Linked DNA regions of Homo sapiens: region 2 is linked to region 1. Evidence: fine-mapped expression QTL. Tissue or cell type: whole blood. Region 1 holds a variant in brackets; the other region holds the start of a gene. All regions are shown on one strand. Distances are between the middles of the regions.

What was found. PIP is the estimated chance that this variant, and not a neighbour inherited with it, causes the effect.
Region 2: NOD1 starts here. The variant in region 1 is fine-mapped to the expression of NOD1 in whole blood (TOPMed, PIP above 0.99).

The regions. Positions count from the first base shown.
Region 1 is chr7:30,439,580-30,450,631 of GRCh38, forward strand. NOD1 (nucleotide binding oligomerization domain containing 1) reads right to left here. Exons shown (of 14, transcript NM_006092.4): 7 at 8,719-8,802; 8 at 7,388-7,471; 9 at 6,562-6,645. Among named protein-coding and RNA genes, the nearest start is that of NOD1, 34 kb to the right of the region's middle. RefSeq lists a silencer at 6,260-6,419 and an enhancer at 9,947-10,447. The variant A/G (reference allele first, on the strand shown) is at 6,546.
Region 2 is chr7:30,473,547-30,484,598 of GRCh38, forward strand. It overlaps NOD1 (nucleotide binding oligomerization domain containing 1), which reads right to left and starts at 5,238. Exons shown (of 14, transcript NM_006092.4): 1 at 5,060-5,238. RefSeq lists an enhancer at 4,734-5,478 and a silencer at 5,127-5,366.

The DNA of each region.
Region 1 (11,052 bases):
TCCCACACCTGGCTCAGAGGGTCCTACGCCCACGGAATCTCGCTGATTGCTAGCACAGCAGTCTGAGATCAAACTGCAAGGCGGCAACGAGGCTGGGGGAGGGGCGCCCGCCATAGCCCAGGCTTGCTTAGGTAAACAAAGCAGCCGGGAAGCTCGAACTGGGTGGAGCCCACCACAGCTCAAGGAGGCCTGCCTGCCTCTGTAGGCTCCACCTCTGGGGGCAGGGCACAGACAAACAAAAAGACAGCAGTAACCTCTGCAGACTTAAGTGTCCCTGTCTGACAGCTTTGAAGAGAGCAGTGGTTCTCCCAGCACGCAGCTGGAGATCTGAGAACGGGCAGACTGCCTCCTCAAGTGGGTCCCTGACCCCTGACCCCCGAGCAGCCTAACTGGGAGGCACCCCCCAGCAGAGGCACACTGACACCTCACACGGCAGGGTATTCCAACAGACCTGCAGCTGAGGGTCCTGTCTGTTAGAAGGAAAACTAACAACCAGAAAGGACATCTACACTGAAAACCCATCTGTACATCACCATCATCAAAGACCAAAAGTAGATAAAACCACAAAGATGGGGAAAAAACAGAACAGAAAAACTGGAAACTCTAAAACGCAGAGCGCCTCTCCTCCTCCAAAGGAACGCAGTTCCTCACCAGCAACAGAACAAAGCTGGATGGAGAATGATTTTGACGAGCTGAGAGAAGAAGGCTTCAGACGATCAAATTACTCTGAGCTACGGGAGGACATTCAAACCAAAGGCAAAGAAGTTGAAAACTTTGAAAAAAATTTAGAAGAATGTATAACTAGAATAACCAATACAGAGAAGTGCTTAAAGGAGCTGATGGAGCTGAAAACCAAGGCTCGAGAACTACGTGAAGAATGCAGAAGCCTCAGGAGCCGATGCGATCAACTGGAAGAAAGGGTATCAGCAATGGAAGATGAAATGAATGAAATGAAGCGAGAAGGGAAGTTTAGAGAAAAAAGAATAAAAAGAAATGAGCAAAGCCTCCAAGAAATATGGGACTATGTGAAAAGACCAAATCTACGTCTGATTGGTGTACCTGAAAGTGATGTGGAGAATGGAACCAAGTTGGAAAACACTCTGCAGGATATTATCCAGGAGAACTTCCCCAATCTAGCAAGGCAGGCCAACGTTCAGATTCAGGAAATACAGAGAACGCCACAAAGATACTCCTCGAGAAGAGCAACTCCAAGACACATAATTGTCAGATTCACCAAAGTTGAAATGAAGGAAAAAATGTTAAGGGCAGCCAGAGAGAAAGTTCGGGTTACCCTCAAAGGAAAGCCCATCAGACTAACAGCGGATCTCTCGGCAGAAACCCTACAAGCCAGAAGAGAGTGGGGGCCAATATTCAACATTCTTAAAGAAAAGAATTTTCAACCCAGAATTTCATATCCAGCCAAACTAAGCTTCATAAGTGAAGGAGAAATAAAATACTTTATAGACAAGCAAATGCTGAGAGATTTTGTCACCACCAGGCCTGCCCTAAAAGAGCTCCTGAAGGAAGCGGTAAACATGGAAAGGAACAACCGGTACCAGCCGCTGCAAAATCATGCCAAAATGTAAAGACCATCGAGACTAGGAAGAAACTGCATCAACTAATGAGCAAAATCGCCAGCTAACATCATAATGACAGGATCAAATTCACACATAACAATATTAACTTTAAATATAAATGGACTAAATTCTGCAATTAAAAGACACAGACTGGCAAGTTGGATAAAGAGTCAAGACCCATCAGTGTGCTGTATTCAGGAAACCCATCTCACGTGCAGAGACACACATAGGCTCAAAATAAAAGGATGGAGGAAGATCTACCAAGCCAATGGAAAACAAAAAAAGGCAGGGGTTGCAATCCTAGTCTCTGATAAAACAGACTTTAAACCAACAAAGATCAAAAGAGACAAAGAAGGCCATTACATAATGGTAAAGGGATCAATTCAACAAGAGGAGCTAACTATCCTAAATATTTATGCACCCAATACAGGAGCACCCAGATTCATAAAGCAAGTCCTCAGTGACCTACAAAGAGACTTAGACTCCCACACATTAATAATGGGAGACTTTAACACCCCACTGTCAACATTAGACAGATCAATGAGACAGAAAGTCAACAAGGATACCCAGGAATTGAACTCAGCTCTGCACCAAGCAGACCTAATAGACATCTACAGAACTCTCCACCCCAAATCAACAGAATATACATTTTTTTCAGCACCACACCACACCTATTCCAAAATTGACCACATAGTTGGAAGTAAAGCTCTCCTCAGCAAATGTAAAAGAACAGAAATTATAACAAACTATCTCTCAGACCACAGTGCAATCAAACTAGAACTCAGGATTAAGAATCTCACTCAAAGCCGCTCAACTACATGGAAACTGAACAACCTGCTCCTGAATGACTACTGGGTACATAACGAAATGAAGGCAGAAATAAAGATGTTCTTTGAAACCAACGAGAACAAAGACACCACATACCAGAATCTCTGGGACGCATTCAAAGCAGTGTGTAGAGGGAAATTTATAGCACTAAATGCCTACAAGAGAAAGCAGGAAAGATCCAAAATTGACACCCTAACATCACAATTAAAAGAACTAGAAAAGCAAGAGCAAACACATTCAAAAGCTAGCAGAAGGCAAGAAATAACTAAAATCAGAGCAGAACTGAAGGAAATAGAGACACAAAAAACCCTTCAAAAAATCAATGAATCCAGGAGCTGGTTTTTCGAAAGGATCAACAAAATTGATAGACCGCTAGCAAGACTAATAAAGAAAAAAAGAGAGAAGAATCAAATAGACACAATAAAAAATGATAAAGGGGATATCACCACCGATCCCACAGAAATACAAACTACCATCAGAGAATACTACAAACACCTCTACGCAAATAAACTAGAAAATCTAGAAGAAATGGATACATTCCTCGACACATACACTCTCCCAAGACTAAACCAGGAAGAAGTTGAATCTCTGAATAGACCAATAACAGGCTCTGAAATTGTGGCAATAATCAATAGTTTACCAACCAAAAAGAGTCCAGGACCAGATGGATTCACAGCCGAATTCTACCAGAGGTACAAGGAGGAACTGGTACCATTCCTTCTGAAACTATTCCAATCAATAGAAAAAGAGGGAATCCTCCCTAACTCATTTTATGAGGCCAGCATCATTCTGATACCAAAGCCGGGCAGAGACACAACCAAAAAAGAGAATTTTAGACCAATATCCTTGATGAACATTGATGCAAAAATCCTCAATAAAATACTGGCAAACCGAATCCAGCAGCACATCAAAAAGCTTATCCACCATGATCAAGTGGGCTTCATCCCTGGGATGCAAGGCTGGTTCAATATACGCAAATCAATAAATGTAATCCAGCATATAAACAGAGCCAAAGACAAAAACCACATGATTATCTCAATAGATGCAGAAAAAGCCTTTGACAAAATTCAACAACCCTTCATGCTAAAAACTCTCAATAAATTAGGTATTGATGGGACGTATTTCAAAATAATAAGAGCTATCTATGACAAACCCACAGCCAATATCATACTGAATGGGCAAAAACTGGAAGCATTCCCTTTGAAAACTGGCACAAGACAGGGATGCCCTCTCTCACCGCTCCTATTCAACATAGTGTTGGAAGTTCTGGCCAGGGCAATCAGGCAGGAGAAGGAAATAAAGGGTATTCAATTAGGAAAAGAGGAAGTCAAATTGTCCCTGTTTGCAGACGACATGATTGTTTATCTAGAAAACCCCATCGTCTCAGCCCAAAATCTCCTTAAGCTGATAAGCAACTTCAGCAAAGTCTCAGGATACAAAATCAATGTACAAAAATCACAAGCATTCTTATACACCAACAACAGACAAACAGAGAGCCAAATCATGGGTGAACTCCCATTCACAATTGCTTCAAAGAGAATAAAATACCTAGGAATCCAACTTACAAGGGATGTGAAGGACCTCTTCAAGGAGAACTACAAACCACTGCTCAAGGAAATAAAAGAGGACACAAACAAATGGAAGAACATTCCATGCTCATGGGTAGGAAGAATCAATATCGTGAAAATGGCCATACTGCCCAAGGTAATTTACAGATTCAATGCCATCCCCATCAAGCTACCAATGACTTTCTTCACAGAATTGGAAAAAACTACTTTAAAGTTCATATGGAACCAAAAAAGAGCCCGCATCGCCAAGTCAATCCTAAGCCAAAAGAACAAAGCTGGAGGCATCACACTACCTGACTTCAAACTATACTACAAGGCTACAGTAACCAAAACAGCATGGTACTGGTACCAAAACAGAGATATAGATCAATGGAACAGAACAGAGCCCTCAGAAATAATGCCGCATATCTACAACTATCTGATCTTTGACAAACCTGAGAAAAACAAGCAATGGGGAAAGGATTCCCTATTTAATAAATGGTGCTGGGAAAACTGGCTAGCCATATGTAGAAAGCTGAAACTGGATCCCTTCCTTACACCTTATACAAAAATCAATTCAAGATGGATTAAAGATTTAAACGTTAAACCTAAAACCATAAAAACCCTAGAAGAAAACCTAGGCATTACCATTCAGGACATAGGCGTGGGCAAGGACTTCATGTCCAAAACACCAAAAGCAATGGCAACAAAAGACAAAATTGACAAATGGGATCTAATTAAACTAAAGAGCTTCTGCACAGCAAAAGAAACTACCATCAGAGTGAACAGGCAACCTACAACATGGGAGAAAATTTTCGCAACCTACTCATCTGACAAAGGGCTAATATCCAGAATCTACAATGAACTCAAACAAATTTACAAGAAAAAAACAAACAACCCCATCAAAAAGTGGGCGAAGGACATGAACAGACACTTCTCAAAAGAAGACATTTATGCAGCCAAAAAACACATGAAGAAATGCTCATCATCACTGGCCATCAGAGAAATGCAAATCAAAACCACTATGAGATATCATCTCACACCAGTTAGAATGGCAATCATTAAAAAGTCAGGAAACAGCAGGTGCTGGAGAGGATGCGGAGAAATAGGAACACTTTTACACTGTTGGTGGGACTGTAAACTAGTTCAACCATTGTGGAAGTCAGTGTGGCGATTCCTCAGGGATCTAGAACTAGAAATACCATTTGACCCAGCCATCCCATTACTGGGTATATACCCAAATGAGTATAAATCATGCTGCTATAAAGACACATGCACACGTATGTTTATTGTGGCACTATTCACAATAGCAAAGACTTGGAACCAACCCAAATGTCCAACAATGATAGACTGGATTAAGAAAATGTGGCACATATACACCATGGAATACTATGCAGCCATAAAAAATGATGAGTTCATATCCTTTGTAGGGACATGGATGAAATTGGAAACCATCATTCTCAGTAAACTATCGCAAGAACAAAAAACCAAACACCGCATATTCTCACTCATAGGTGGGAATTGAACAATGAGATCACATGGACACAGGAAGGGGAATATCACACTCTGGGGACTGTGGTGGGGTCGGGGGAGGGGGGAGGGATAGCATTGGGAGATATACCTAATGCTAGATGACACATTAGTGGGTGCAGCGCACCAGCATGGCACATGTATACATATGTAACTAACCTGCACAATGTGCACATGTACCCTAAAACTTAGAGTATAATAAAAAAAAAAAGAATCTAAAAAAAAAAAAAAAAAAAAAAAAGAATTGAAGGCAGTCCTTGAAGAGACATTTGTATGCCCATGTGCACAGCAGCATTATTCACAACAGCCAAAGCATAGAAGCAAGCCAGTGTCTGTTCTTGGATGAATGAGTAAACAAAATGTGGCATAGCCATGCAATGGAGTATTACTCAGCCTTAAAAAAGAAGGAAATCCTGGCGGGGCACGGTGGCTCACGCCTATAATCCTGACACTTTGGGAGACCGAGGTGGGTGGATCATTTGAGGTCAGGAGTTTGAGACCAGCCTGGCCAACATGGTGAAACCCCGCCTCTACTAAAAATACAAAAATTAGCTGGGATTGGTGGCGGGTGCCTATAATCCCAGCTACTCGTGTGGCTGAGGCGAGAGAATCGCTTGAACCCAGAAGGCAGAGGTTGCAGTGAGCCGAGATCATGCCACTGCACTCCAGCCTGGGCAACAGAGCGAGACTCTGTCAAAAAAAAAAAAAAAAAAAAAAAAAAAGGAAATCCTGTCCCATGCTTCCATGTGGACGAATCTTGAGGACATGATGCTAGTGAAATCAGCCATCCCCAAAAGGCAAATACTGTATGATTCCACTTACATGAGGTAGAGTAGTCAAAACCATAGAGAGAGTAAGTAGCAGGGTGGCTGCAAGAGGCAGGGGGGAGGGGGACCGGGGAGTTATTGCTTAATGGGCACGGTTTCAGTTTCGCAGCATGGTGAAAGCTCTCCACTATCTCTCCCCGACAGCGAGCCCCAGTGGTCCTTCTGGTGTACTGATGTATGAAAAGAACAGCAAGGCCCGCCCCCCACACACACAGCAGGTTGTACCACATACATCC[A/G]TCCCCTTCTACTCACCCAACCTCAGAGATTGATTTGCTGTTCTTCACAGCCAGGGCGAGATACTTCCCTCCTTCACTTGTTATTTTGTTTTTTCCCAGTCTGCAGAGAGAGTCACACACAGTCAGCCTCCAGCTATGCAGGGGCTCCAATGTGGGTCACCCTCCTCCCCAGCACAGAGCCCCTTCCAGCCCCATCTTGGGAACCGTACACTTTCTTCTGGGATCCACAAGAGCCATGGCCTGGGCCTCCTGTCAGGGAGGGAACTGAAGCCCTGAGGACAGTCAGTCAGGGTTCCTCTCCAGGAGATGGTCCACAGTCTCTGCAGAAGCTCAGGGACCTGAGCCCTCCCTGGGGTCCTCTAATTGACCTCAGCAGCATCACTGACTTCCCTCGGGAGACCTGGGAGGTCCCACTTTGACTGCCAAGGGTCAAGGTATGTGGCCACTGTCAGGGCAGGACCAGAGGCTCCAAGCCTGGCGCACTGTCACCCCCTGCGCAGGGCACACCTACAGCAGGGCAAGGGCCCAAGCTCTTCCTTGCAACCCGACAGGAAACTCCCTTGGGGCAAAAAGACCACCAGAAAGGGTGAGAGTTAGTCCTTTCTTCGGCCTAGTAGTTAATGAAATCAAAATGCCAACCTTTCCCCCTACCAATAACGGGAGGCCCTTCCAGAATCCAAGCCTCACAGATCACACAGAGGTATCTTTACTTGACCAACATGGCCCTGGGACAAGTGGAAGGCTTTAGGATGAAAGCTCTTTACTGTGACATTTAATCTTTGAACAACAGAAGGGGGTGATCAAGAGAATATACTAAGGAACCTGGTGCCTACCCCACTTACTTAAGATGCGTGAGGCCTTTGCATTCATCCAGGATTTTGGTGACGTACCTGGCTCCGACATCGGTGATCTGGTTGTTGTATAAACTTCAAGAGAAAGCACAGCCATGAGACTTTCTGGCTCCTGATGTCATTTTAATAGCCCCTGTTTTTTGAAGCATATGGTGTCTACTGATTTCCAAAGTCTGGGTTGAAAGGGGAACACACAGGCACCAGAGTTTAGGGCTCTGAGGTCTCACAGCTCAGGTTCAAAACCAGCTCCACTACTTTCCCCAGCTTTATGGCCTGAGACAAGTCACGTTACCTCTCTGTGCCTCAGTTTCTCCATCTGTAATACAGAGGTAATGATGATAGTCCCCTTGCAGGGTGGTTATGAGGATCTTAGGACATAACGCAAAGCCCTGGTGCATGAGTGCTCGGTGACTGGCAGGTGATGGGTATTTACAACTAAGATTACATTCAGCGTCTTGAGAAGAAAAGATTCTGAATATTAAAACTTCTCGATGTCTACCTTTCAGCCATCTCACCGCTCAATGCCAATTCAATAGTACAGCAGATGGAAGTTGAAAGGCAGCTAAGCTCAGGCTTCCAGGGTTCCACAGCCACACAGAGCCCTGGAGCCGAGTGTGGCCCGGGGTCGTTTGCGTCCATGTCCTCATTAACATCGAAGGCCACTGAGGCCCCAAGAAACTGAACAACTGCTCCAGCTTGCAGAGCCACCAGTTGTGTGGGGCTGGCCCGCAATCCCTTCTCTCAGACTCCAAAACCTCAAAGGCTCTGAATGCCCAAAGTTTCTCACAATTCTTTTGGCAACTGATGTGGAGCTACTTATAGTCTTTCTTACCACACTTGGTTTGACTGTTTCATACATTCTGCGGGAGAAATATGAAAGTGTTTGAAAATGGGGCACTGCCTTAGACCCCTGCGGCCACGTCATGCCATAGCATGCACTCAGAATCCCCATTCGGGTCTTGCCCCAAAGGCTCTGGATGAGGGATTATGGACCCAAAATAGTCCAGACTAATATGTAAACAGGATTCTAGCATTTATTAAATATATCCCCTTATATTCTCGTTGCATCCCCCAATAACCAGTTGTAAGCCTACTTGCCTATACTGGGATCCCAGTTTTACAGGTGAGGAGGCTGAGGCTCAGCAAGACTTCATGACTGGCCGAGCCACAAAGAGAACCCAGGACTCTCAACTCCTGGGCCAGCGCTCTTCCCAGCCCTGGGCCATCCGTGCCGATCATCCAGGGACCTATGGGAATGTGAATTCCCTGCAGCTCTGTATTATTACTAGGTAGTTGGCCCAGTGTTCTGGAGAAAGACATACCCCAAATAGGTCACAATTTTGTATTTGGTCAGCTCTTCGCTTAGCACCTTTACCCCACCGTCAGTGATCTGGTTTACGCTGAGTCTGAAATAAAACAGCAAAAAAATTACGAGTCAGGGCAGGCACTCATTATGAAGGACCATTAATCTTACAAAGATCCAGAAGCCTTCAGGCCCTGGAGTTTTCTCAGGTATAGACGCCCCTGGAGAATGGCCACAGCAATCAGCCAAATAGCCCCTTACAAAGCCTGGCCAACGTGGGGCCGCCAGACCCATCCTGCACCAGCCCATGAGCGAGGCTGCAGCACAGCCCCTGGCTCCTCACACGACCGTGAAGGACACAGGGAGGACGTGTGAGGCCAGCCACCTCTGACATCCACCCTTTGCGTGTGACCTATGTGTCAGCCAGACCCTGTACCTGGTTCTCGTATGGTGGAGGGCATGGGTTTGGAAATGTCAGGGGCTGCTTTTAGTGGTTGTGACTGGAGGAGGGAGTGCCCTGTCATCTTGCAGGCAGGGCCAATGATGTTAGGTGTCCTGCAAAATGCTGGACAGGTCTCACAAGAACTGTTATACCCAAAATGCCAACAGCTTCCCCCCATCCAGAAACACATGGGCTAACCCTGATTTGTCACTGGAAAAGGCTGTGAGTCCCACTGTCAAAGGAGACTGCTCATGTCATTCTGTAAAGTGTCAGACAGCAAATATTTTAGGCTCTGTGGGCCATGTGGTCTCTGTCACAGCTACTCAACTGTGTAGTGTGAAGCAGCCAGTAAGTAAATAAATGGGTATGGCTGCGTTCCAATAAAACTTTACTTAGAAACACAAGCCTTGGGCCCAATTAGACCCACAAGCTGACCTTGATAACAAGTAAAAGGCTGAACAATTAAAAGCTTGATTTTTAGGCCACATCAAAATGATCAAGTCAGACACTCTGGACCCTTTCCCTCAGAGTCCCCAGCTTGGTGCTGGGAAATAGTGTGTATGTACATGGCATGGCCAGCCCAAGACAGCACAGGCTGCTAGACATTCCCAATATCTATACTTTCTTAGCAATAGATTCCCCCATCTTTTAGCTGGGCCCATCTCATTAAATTCTGCCCATACCATTAAGTTCTGAAATCTAAGCAGCAATATAATTAGTAATAGCCAAGAAGTGTTCTTAAAAGATTGAGGCATGCTCTCAATCTTTGCCCTTCCTTCTTACTGATAGCTAGAGTGTCGACTAGATGGCTGGAGTTTGAGCAGCCCTCTTGGGCCAAGATGGGAAAGCCGGGTAGTGAGGATGGCAGAACAGGAAGGCAGAAGAGAGCCTGGGCTCCGGAGGGTCATGGAGACTCCATACCAGTCCTGAACTACCTACCTCTAGACTTTTACATGAGAGAAATAAGCTTGTAACTCACCAACATTTGGGGTTTTCGCTCTCAGCTAAAACTAATCCTAACTGATGCAGCCAGAGAACTGAGTGTGCTTCCCGTGGTTACCCATATCCTCTGCTTTCCTACAAGCTGTTTTTTCTTGCACTGGTGTGAAGGAAAGCTTCACCTGGGGACAGCAGGAAGGGCAGGGCCACCACACTGGTGTGGAGTTTCCCATTGAAAAGATGGACAGAGGGGTCGGGTGCGGCGGCTCATGCCTGTAACCCCAACATTTTGGAAGGCCGAGGCGGGCGGATCACCTGAGGTCAGGATTTCAAGACCAGCCTGGCCAACATGGGGAAACCCCGTCCTACTAAAAATACAAAAAACTTAGCCGGACATGGTGGCGTGTGCCTGTAATCCCAGCTACTCAGGAGGCTGGGGCAAGAGAATCGCTTGAACCCAGGAGGCGGAGGTTGCAGTGAGCTGAGATCACGCCACTGCACTCCAGCCTGGGCAACAGAGCGGGACTCCATTTGGGGGAGAAAAAAAAAAGATGGACAGAGGGTGGCACTGAGTGTGAGACTGCCTGGGGCTACAGAGGGAGAGTCACTGGCTGAGAGTACAGAGAACAGACTCCAGGTTTTCCAATTCCCAGGCTAGGGCAGCCTTCGACCCCCTGCACCCCATGTCCCCATGCAATTATTTACACTCTGACACTGGTGTGACAGGCACTGGGAGTCAGTTCCAAATCCCTACTGCTTTTTAGAAATGCATGAGTCAAGTAATGGCAAATTTAACCCCCTGTAGAGATTTACAAGGTTTATTTTACATAGGAAATGCTAATAGAAGAAAACAGACTGGGCTCTGTTTCCCGTAAACTATGGAACAGGAAAACAACCACGAGTCAGCATTTTAACTGAGGTCTCTAGCAGTGTGAAGGGCTGCTAGCGTTGATCACAGAAAGTCACCAGTGC
Region 2 (11,052 bases), 34 kb after region 1:
TCAGATTTTTTTTTCCAGTTGATATTAACCAGCCTAAGCAATGGATGAGGTTTAATGTTATCTGGAAGTGGGAGGAGGCGACAGGAGGAGTGAGCTGCCACTTTCACTTCCTAAGTAAGCTGCTCTTTGGAAGCAGGGGCTCTGTTTCCAGAAATATGGCCCTACACAGAGCATAAGCACATCTGACTGTTAATGGCAGGAGATGGGCATCAGGAGGTAGGTAGAATAAGCAGGGGTGGGGGTACTCACTGAGCAGCTGGGGCAGTGGTTAAGAACAGGGACTCTGCTTCAAGTCCTGGGATAGACTTTGGGCTAGTTATTTAATCTTGTTGAGCCTCAGTTGTCTCCTCTATAAAACAAGGGAAATGATAACCACTGCACAGGGGCGCTGGGAAGATAAAATGAGCTAAAAACAAACAACAAAAACCCTAAACTCTTAGACCAGTGTGGGACACAGGAAGTCTATGTAAATGCTATTCTTATTTAGGGTCTACCAGATCAGGCCTGTCATCATTTCATTTAATCAAATCAAGCCTCAAAGCAATCTTTCCAGATAGGTAGAGTTAGCCCATTTTACAGATTCAAAAGCCAAGGCTCAAGAAGATTAAAAACCTTATCTGAAGTCACACAACTAGGAGAAGGAAAGACCAGCCCTGGAACCAAAGTAATCATCATAATCTTTATCATCATAATCATGACTTACTAGAAGCTGGGTGATGTGCTAAGCACTTTACATAGATTAGCTCATCAAATACTGAAAACTGCCCAGCAAGGAAAGCATTATTGTAACTAGTTTACAAAGGAGGACACAGAGTTGGAGTGGTTAAGTATGTTGGTGAAGGTCACACAGTTAGTTAAGGCAGTGATCCCCAACCTTTTTGGCACGAGGAACTGGTTTCATGGAAGACAATTTTTCCACAGACAGCGGCGAGTAGGGGCACAGGGGAGATCGTTTTAGGATGAAACTGTCTACCTCAGATCATCAGGCATTAAATTCTCATAAGGAATGTGCAGCCTAGATCCCTCGCGTGTGCGGTTCACCATAGGGTTCCCCTCGCATGAGAATCTGATGCCACCGCTGATCTGACAGGAGGCAGAGTTCAGGCGGTAATGCTTGCTCACTGCTGCTCACCTTCTGCTGTGCGGCCCACCTAAGAGGCCACCGACTGGTATTGGTCCATGGCCTAGGGATTGGGGACCCCTGAAGTAAGGAATAAAACAGGAATTGGATCCTGGTTCTGACTCCAAAACCCATTGTTTCTTCCATTTCAGCCCTGCATGTCTGGTATACTTTATAGACCCAACATCTCTATTTGAAATCATCAACACGCCTGTTTTCATATTAAGTATGAAACACTAGCTTTGTTAAATGGAGTCCAGAAATGACCCACTCACTGAAGGGGCCTGTGTTGTAAGGAGTTAGGATATCCCCTGCCAAAAAAGCCTAGCTTTCCCCCAGTTCCTTCCAAGAAGGTTTGGTTTTGAGGTCATAGGCAGCAATCTGGGCATGTGTTACAAGAAGCAGGGGAAGTTCTTACTCATTAGACTTTTAATCTTTTGGGAATTAGAAAACGAATACTCTCCCAAGTAAATCATCATCTGCTCTCAGCTCTGCTATCATGTAAGGCGTTTCCTTAGCAATATGTGACTGCCAGGCCCAGTTGCATGTGGCTCTGAAAATATCTACCAAATGACTACATTCTCCCAATTCTGACCCTAACCTGTATGGTGGCAATGACAGAACAGAAGGCCAAGGGACATCAACTTTCTGAAACAAATGTAATCAAGGTGAATGTTCATGTTTTATTAAAATCTTAATCTGCCAAAATCTGGCACTAATCTGGTGCTCACTTTGAAATTATCTGGGCCCTTACTACAGTGCTCTATAATTTAGAGGAAAAGGACGCTTCAGTAAAACAAATTCTAAAGTGGCAGTTTACTGGAGAGTAACTTTTAATTTCCATGCAGTATAATACAAAATTGCCTTGTTGGCTCTAAGGACGTGCATCCCTCATCAGGGAACTCTGCCCCATTAGAGGACCAAGGTGAGATCCCTTCAGAGTGGCATCATCCCCGGTTGGCTCAATGGCTCCAGAGACAGGGAGGATGGCGAAGAGAAGGGCCGGTGGCATGCCTGCCTTAGCCAACTCTGCACAGGAATCTCTGCCCACAGTTTGGACTGTGGCAGTTCCAGATAAAACACATGTTTAAATAAGAGTTCAAGCCAGGAAGTCTTGCCTGAATGAACTTTCTAGCGTGGGTAAAAAATGTCAGCTAACTGACATGCCAGTGACTACTCACCTCTCACCACAAGAGTCAAGTTTAGAAACAACACTTGCCCTCAACGAGTATTTGATGCGCTAAAGAGTTTTTCCAGAAACCAGGTCAGACCTTTTGGATAAATCAAAGGAGGCCCCTTGTGTGACATGCAACTGACTGTCCCTAGAAGATAAAAGAAAATGGGACTTCTGAAAACTTGCAAAATACCTAGAGCCTCTGCATGACAAAAATTCAGCATAAGTACACATTTTAGCTTTTCTAATTTCTTCTTGCCTAAAAAAAATCCCCCCAATAATAAGAATGATAGAAGAAACTAGTAACTTAAACCTTAAATCCTACGTTCATATCTTAGATTTTGAACAAATATTGAATCCTTTTCTTTGAATAAGAGATAAGACTTTGATAGTCTTGTGTAAGCAAATATCAGTGATCACACATACACTAGAAAAACACTTGATCTTTATGCCTATATTACTTACTGTTTCTATTTCTGATGTCTAATCTAAACAGCACTGCTGTTAGGATCAAAGTGACCATCCATGATGCACAGAGCACGTACCAGGGTAAAGTTCCAGCTGGGACGCAGGCATCAGCAATTGTAGAATTTGGGTTCTCCCTTCCTCAGATCCCTGACTGTCCTTGGTCATTCAAGAAAGATTCACTGTCCCTAGGCCAAGAGTCAGGAGCAAAACAGGAACACCAAGGGTATGGTCTGAGGATGTTGTCAGCAGGGAGCAACGTGCGTGTGTGTGCACATACACTAATTCTGAGACACTGTGCACAGCCCAGCTTTCTTGGAAAGCCATTTAAAAGATATATATGTGGCAACAGAGAGGAGGAAGTCTCAAGATTAAGAACAGCTTTTGAGTGTGTGTGTGTCAAAATATTCATTCCTATCACATGCAGTAAAACTGTATTCCAGAGCCATTAATACGCCCTGGGGGACTGAGGGGATTTGCAGCCTAAGATTTCAGACTTAAAGCCCGCTAAGGCCCTGAGCGGGGCAGCAGGGCAGGAGAAGGAATGGAGCGTTGAAGGGAACATTTTATAGACATTCTCCCTCATAGTGGCTGTACTAAGTAAACAATTAACGGGCACAAACTGCCACTCCAGTGTCTAATAACTACCTCTGCCAGAGCACCTGCCAGCGCCACCACCTTCCAGGTGTGTGATGCACATCATCTCGCTGAACTATGCTAGCCTCAGGAGAGGGTTGCTCTTTATTTTACAGGTGGGAAAACAGGGGCTTGGAGAGGTCAAGGAACTTGCCCAAAGTCACAGCATAGAAGTGACAGAATCCGAGTTTTGACCCAGATTTGATGGGTTCCAAAGCGTGAACTTATTTCTCCACTCCACAAAAATAAAACCTACTCTTCTTACAATATTTGAAAGAGCCCTCTTCTACCACTCTGCTGTTTGTTTTAAACACAGCTTGCTTATCTGTCTGGCATATTCGGTAGAAGTCTGTACTTTGTCAATGCCTGGTTTGCCTGGATTTCAGCTACCTGGCCCCTGGCATCTAAGCCTGGGTGAGAACAGGGAATCCACTCCTCTCTAAGATGCATCGTGGAGTTACTCTTTTACTCTTCCCTGAAAGTGATAGTTCAATCTTCAACAGGGGCTTTGAGGGAGAACAAACTCGACCCTTTGGCAAGCACGACTTCTGGCTTCACCGTTTTTTTGTTTTTTGTTTGTTTGTTTGTTTTTGACGGAGTTTTGCTCTTGTTGCCCAGGCTGGAGCGCAACAGGGCGATCTCGGCTCACTGCAACCTCTGCCTCCCGGGTTCAAGCAATTCTCCTGCTTCAGCCTCCCGAGTAGCTGGGATTACAGGCATGCGCCACCACGCCCGGTTAATTTTTTTTTTTTTTTTTTTTAGTAGAGACGGTTTCACCATGTTGGGCCAGGCTGGTCTCGAACTCTCGACCTCAGGTGATCCGCCTGCCTTGGCCTCCCAAAGTGCTGGGATTACAGGCGTGAGCCACCGCGCCCGGCCCTGGCTTCACCCTTAAAGCAGAAAGGCCAGAAGTCATCAAGGCCATGGGTTTACTAGCTTAGCTTCCCCAGACTTAATTTCAAACACCAACAACCGAAATGTTTCCTAGAATGCAGAGCTAATGAGACATCAACCTCTGTCATTTCCTATGTTTTTCACAATGTGCCAAAACAACTGCACACATTGGAGGCGTTTTTGAATGTGATATTCAGGCGACCTTGCCAAGCATTGTCTCATTTCCTTACTTTGTGGAGCATGAAACCCAAGGGAAGTTCTCACCCTCTCTCCAGGACCAAGCAGGACACTGGGAGCTGCTGTCCCGTCTGCAGGCGGGACTCCATGAAGGCCCCTGTCTGCCCTTCCAGCCTTTGCCACAAACCCTCGAACGCTGGCTGCACACTGGAATCACTTGGGGAGCTTTTAAAAGATACGGAGGCCTGGGTCTGACTCCGTGAGATTCTGATGGAATTGATCTAGGGTGCAGCCTGGATATCTGGATTTTAAAAGCTCCCCAGGTGGTTCTAAGCTGCTGGCACGATTGAGAACCCCTGCGTTCGACCACAGTGGGATAAACGATTCCGCTGACTGTGAAGTTCATCCCTCTCAACTTTCGCTACATGCTTCAAACTCGCGGGTTTCTCCGCTTGGTTCCACCCAGAGCTCCTCCAGAGCCGCGCTGCGTTCCGCCCGCACGCAAATCCCGCCTCCCTGCGCCTCCTCACTCGCAGCGCCCAGGACCTCAGAAAGGGCCTGCCCCGCGCGAATCCCCAGTCGCTGGGACTTACTTGGCCACCAGGTTTACAGACTTCGCAGCCGCTGAGAGCTAGAGAAGAGCCCGGAGAGCGCCATGGTCCGGGGACGCCGGGGCCGGGAAGCGCCGTGGCCCGGGAGGACGCTGCTCCCGCAGTAGCGCGAGGGAGGGGCAGGACCGGGGCGGCTGCCTCGCGGGCCCGGAACGGGAACTGGCTGCGACTACAGCCGCAGCCGCGCCCCTCTGTTGGCGCGCCCAAGAGCCTGCCGGCTGCTGGGAGAGGCCGCCGAAGGGCGGGGGCGGTCAAGGCAGGGTCCCACGGTGCTGCCATTCGCCCGGGTCTGGCGCGGGGGGGCGAGAGAAGCTGCGCGCAGAGGGACGCCCGGTGCGAGAGGGTGAGCCCCTGGCCACCGCGCAGGGCCGAGTGGACAGGCCCAAGTTCGCCCAGAGGTGACACACTTGGGAATTTGTGGTGCCATCGTGCCAGGTCCCTCCTCGTAAAAGTGCCTACCCAGCGCCTGCAACCAGAGCCAAAGCCTGGACATGATAGGGAAACTCTTGTTAAAACGCGACACGTGGTCCTGATGAAATGGAGGTTAACGTAATCAAATTTAAATTACACTGCATACATTTCAATTTATACTTTTTAAAAAATGTAAGCTTTTCTTCCTATCCTTAAATTTGTTCTTGGCAGTGTACATTTTATGTTCTATGCATATGCTCTAATAGGTTGTAAAAGAGTTTTAACATGCTAATAAATGTCCCCAATAAAATAGTTTTAAAACGTTTTGAATGGGGATCGTGTCCATAAGGGATATCATGCTACAGAAAGTTGTCACTTACTCACACTGAAGAAGTACATTCAATCATATAGCCACTGATGCTTGTGAGTATTAAAATTCCCATCAGAGGCTGCCCTCTGAGAAACAGAAAGTATGTTCTTAAATCAAAAGTGAAAGTGCAAACTAAAGTTGATAGGATCAAATGTGCCAACTTGTGTCAGGCCTCTGAGCCCAAGCCTGCATGTATACATCCAGATGGCCTGAAGCAACTGAGGAATCACAAAGGTAGTGAAAATGGCTGGTTCCTGCCTTAACTGATGACATTACCTTGTGAAATTCCTTCTCCTGGCTCAGAAGCTCCCCCACTGAGCACTTTGTAGACCTTCCACCCCCCCGGCCCCCGCCTTGCCCACCAGAGAACAACCCCCTTTGACTGTAATTTTCCACTACCCACACAAATCCTATAAAGCTACCACACCCCTAACTCCCTTTGCTGACTCTTTTTTTCGTACTCGGCCCACCTGCACCCAGGTGAAATAAACAGCTTTATTGCTCACGCAAAGCCTTTTGGTGGTCTCTTCACACGGACACGTGTGACATTTGGTGCCGAAGACCCGGGACAGGAGGACTCCTTCAGGAGACCAGTCCCCTGTCCTCACCCTCACTCTGTGAGGAGATCCACCTATGACCTCGGGTCCTCAGACCAAACAGCCCAAGGAACATCTCACCAATTTCAAATCGGGTAAGCGGTCTTTTCACTGTCTTCTCCAGCCTCTCTCACTACCCTTAAATCTCCCTCTATTTCCAATTCCAGTTCTTTCTCCTCTCTAGTAGAGACAAAGGAGACATATTTTATCCATGGACCCAAAACTCCAGCTCCGGTCACGGACTCAGGAAAACAGTCGTCCCTTGGTGTTTAATCACTGCAGGGACACCTGCCTGATTATTCACGTACATTTCATTGGTGTCTGATCACCGTGGGGATGCCTGCCTTGGTCATTCACCCACATTCCCTTGGTGGCAAGTCAATTGTGGGTCGCCTGCTTTGGCTGCTCAGCCACATTGCAGCCCAGGGCTGCTCACCACCCCCCTTCTCCGGGTCTCTACCTTCTTTTCTCTGGGCTTGCCTCCTTCACTATGGGCAACCTTCCACCCTCCATTCCCCCTTCTTCTCCCTTAGCCTGTGTTCTCAAGAACTTAAAACCTCTTCAACTCACACCTGACCTAAAACCTAAACGCCTTATTTTCTTCTGCAATACCGTTTGACCCCAATACAGACTCAACAATGGTTCCAAATAGCCAGAAAACGGCACTTTCAATTTCTCCATCCTACATGAGCTAGATAATTATTGTCGTAAAATGGGCAAATAGTCTGAGGTGCCTGATGTCCAGGCATTCTTTTACACATTGGTCCCTTCCTAATCTCTGCTCCCAATGTGACTCATCCCAAATCTTCTTTCTCTCCTGTCTGTTCCTTCAGTCTCCACCCCAAGCTCTGAGTCCTGTGAATCCTCCTTTTCTATGGACCCATCTAACCTCTCCCCTCCTCCCCAGGCTGCTCCTCGCCAGGCTGAGCCAGGTCCCAATTCTTCCTCTGCCTCCACTCCCCCACCCTATAATCCTTCTATCACCTCACCTCCTCACACCCGGTCCAGCTTACAGTTTCGTTCCGCAACTAGCCCTCCCCTACCTACCCAACAATTTCCTCAAGGTTAATGCTCCTTTTTCTTTATCCAACCTCTCCCAAATCAATTAGCATTTAGGCTTTTTTTCATCAAATATGAAAACATAGCCCAGTCCATGGCTCTTTTGGCAACAACCCTTAGACACTTTACAGCCCTAGACTCTGAAAGGTCAGAAGGCTGTCTTAGTATGCATTTTAGTACCCAATCCACTCCCGACGTTACATAAAGCTCCAAAAATTAGAATTCGGCCCTCAAACCCCACAAAAGGAATTAATCAACCTCACCTTCAAGGTGTACAATAATAGAAAGGAGGCAGCCAGACAGCAATGCATTTCTGAGTTACAATTACTTGCCTCTGCTGTAAGACAAAACCCAGCCGCACCTCCAGCACACAAGAACATCAGAATGCCTAAGCCGCAGTGGTCAAGCATTCCTACAGGACCTCCTCCATCAGGATCTTGCTTCAAGTGCCAGAAATCTGGCCACTGGGCCAAGGAATGTGTGCAGCCCGGGATTCCTCCCAAGCCATGTCCCATCTGTGCAGGACCCCACTGGAAATCAGACTGTCCAACTCGCCCAGCAGCCACTGCTAGAGCCCCTGGAACTCTGTCTGGCCCAAGGCTCTCTGACTGACTCCTTTACAGATCTTCTCGGACTGACGCTGCCCGATCGCCTCAGAAGCCTCCTGGACCATCACAGATGCTTTGGGTAACTCTTACAGTGGAGGGTAAGTCCATCCCCTTCTTAATTAATACGGAGGCTACCCACTCCACATTACCTTCTTTACAAAGGCCTGTTTCCTTTGCCTCCATAAATGTTGTGGGTATTGATGGCCAGGCTTCTAAACCTCTTAAAACTTCCCAATTCTGGTGCCAACTTGGACAACATTCTTTTATGCACTCCTTTTTAGTTATCCCCACCTGCCCAGTTCCCTTATTAGGTCGAGAAATTTTAACTAAATTATCTGCTTCCCTGACTATTCCTAGGCTACAGCCACACCTCAATGCTGCCCTTTTTCCCAGTTCAAAGCCTCCTTTGCATCCTCCTTTTGTATCCCCCCACCTTAATCCACAAGTGTAGGACACCTCTACTCCCTCCTTGGCAACCGATCACGCAACCCGTACCATCCCATTAAAACCTAATCACCCTTACCCCGCTCAACGCCAATATCCCATCCCACAGCACGCTTTAAAAGGATTAAAGCCTGTTATCACTCACCTGTTAACAGCATGGCCTTTTAAATCCTATAAACTCTCCTTACAATTCCCCCATTTTACCTGTCCAAAAACCGGACAAGCCTTACAGGTTAGTTCAGGATCTGCGCCTTATCAACCAAATTGTCTTGCCTATCCACCCTGTGGTGCCAAACCCATATACTCTCCTATCCTCAATACCTCCCTCCACAACCCCTCCATAGCCCATTATTCTGTTCTGGATCTCAAACATGCTTTCTTTACTATTCCTTTGCACCCTTCATCCCAGCCTCTCTTTGCTCTCACTTAGACTGATCCTGACATCCATCAGCCTCAGCAACTTACTTGGGCTGTACTGCCACAAGGCTTCATGGACAGCCCCCATTGCTTCAGTCAAGCCCAAATTTCTTCCTCATCCATTACCTGTCTTGGCATAATTCTTCATGAAAAAACACATGCTCTCTCTGCTGATCCTGACTGGCTAATCTCCCAAACCCCAGCCACTTCTACAAAACAACAACTCCTTTCCTTCCTAGGCATGGGTAGGTACTTCCGCCTTTGGATACCTAGTTTTACCATCCTGACTAAACCATTATATAAACTCACAAAAGCAAACCTAGCTGACCCCATTAATCCTAAATCCTTTCCCCACTCCTCTTTCCGTTCCTTAAAAAACAGCCCTAAAAGCTGCTCCCACACTAGCTCTCCGTAACTCATCCCAACCCTTTTTTCATTACACACAGCCGAAGTGCAGGGCTGTGCAGTCAGAATTCTTACACAAGAGCTGGGATTGTGCCCTGTAGCCTTTCTGTCCAAATAACTTAACCCTACTGTTTTAGCTAGCCCCCATTATTCCTGATACCACACCTGACCCCCATGACTGTATCTCTCTAAATCCACCTGGCATTCACTCCATTTCCCCATATTTCTTTCTTTCCTGTTCCTCACCTTGATCGCACTTGGTTTATTGTTGGCAGTTCCACCAGGCCTAATTGCCATTCACCAGCAAAGGCAGGCTATGCTATAGTAGTATCTTCCACATCTATCCTTGAGGCTACCACTCTGCCCCGCTCCCCTACCTCTCAGCAAGCCAAACTCATTGCCTTAACTTGAGCCCTCACTCTTGCAAAAGGACTACACGTCAATATTTATACTGTCTCTAAATATGCCTCCCATATCCTGCACCACCATGCTGTTATATAGGCAGAAAAAGGTTCCCTCACTACGCAAAGGTCCTCCATCATTAATGCCTCTTTAATAAAAACTCTTCTCAAGACCACTTTACTTCCAAAGGAAGCTGGAGTCATTCACTGCAAGGGCCATCAAAAGGCATCAGATCCCATCACTCAGGGCAATGCTTATGCTGATAAGGTAGCTAAAGAAGCAGCTAGAGTTCCAACTTCTGTCCCTCATGGCCAGTTTTTATCCTTCTCTTCGGTCACTCCCACCTACTGTCCCACTGAAACTTCCACTTATCAATCTCTTCCCACATAAGGCAAATGGTTCTAGGACCAAGGAAAATATCTCTTTCCAGCCTCACAGGCCCATTCTATTCTGTCATCATTTCATAACCTCTTCCATGTAGGTTACAAGCCGCTAGCCCATCTCTTAAAACCTCTCATTTCCTTTCCATTGTAAAAATCTATCCTCAGAAAATCACTTCTCAGTGTTCCATCTGCTATTCTGTTTCTCCTCAGGGATTTCTCAGGCCCCCTCCCTTCCCTACACATCAAGCTCGAGAATTTACCCCTGCCCAGGACTGGTAAATTGACTTTACTCACATGCCCCGAGTCAGAAAACTAAAATACCTCTTGGTCTGGGTATACGCTTTCACTAGATAGGTAGAGGCCTTTCCCACAGGGTCTGAGAAGGCCACCGCGGTCATTTCTTCCCTTCTGTCAGACATAATTGCTCGGTTTGGCCTTCCCACCTCTATACAGTCCAATAACGGACCAGCCTTTATTAGTCAAATCACCCAAGCAGTTTCTCAGGCTCTTGATATTCAGTAAAACCTTCAATACCCCTTACCATTCTCAATCTTCAGGAATGGTAAAATGGACTAATGGTCTTTTAAAAACACACCTCACCAAGCTCAGCCTCCAACTTAAAAAGAACTGGACAATACTTTTACCACTTGCCCTTCTCAGAATTCGGGCCTGTCCTTGGGTTGCTACAGGGTACAGCCCATTTGAGCTCCTGTATGGACACTCCTTTTTATTAGGCCCCAGTCTCATTCCAGATACCAGCCCAACTTGAACTGCACCCCAAAAACTTGGATAGAACCTAAAAACTTGCCAACCAAGCAAGTAATTATGCTGAACCCCTTTGGTTACTCTCCAATTAGATGTCCTGGGTCCTCCCAATTCT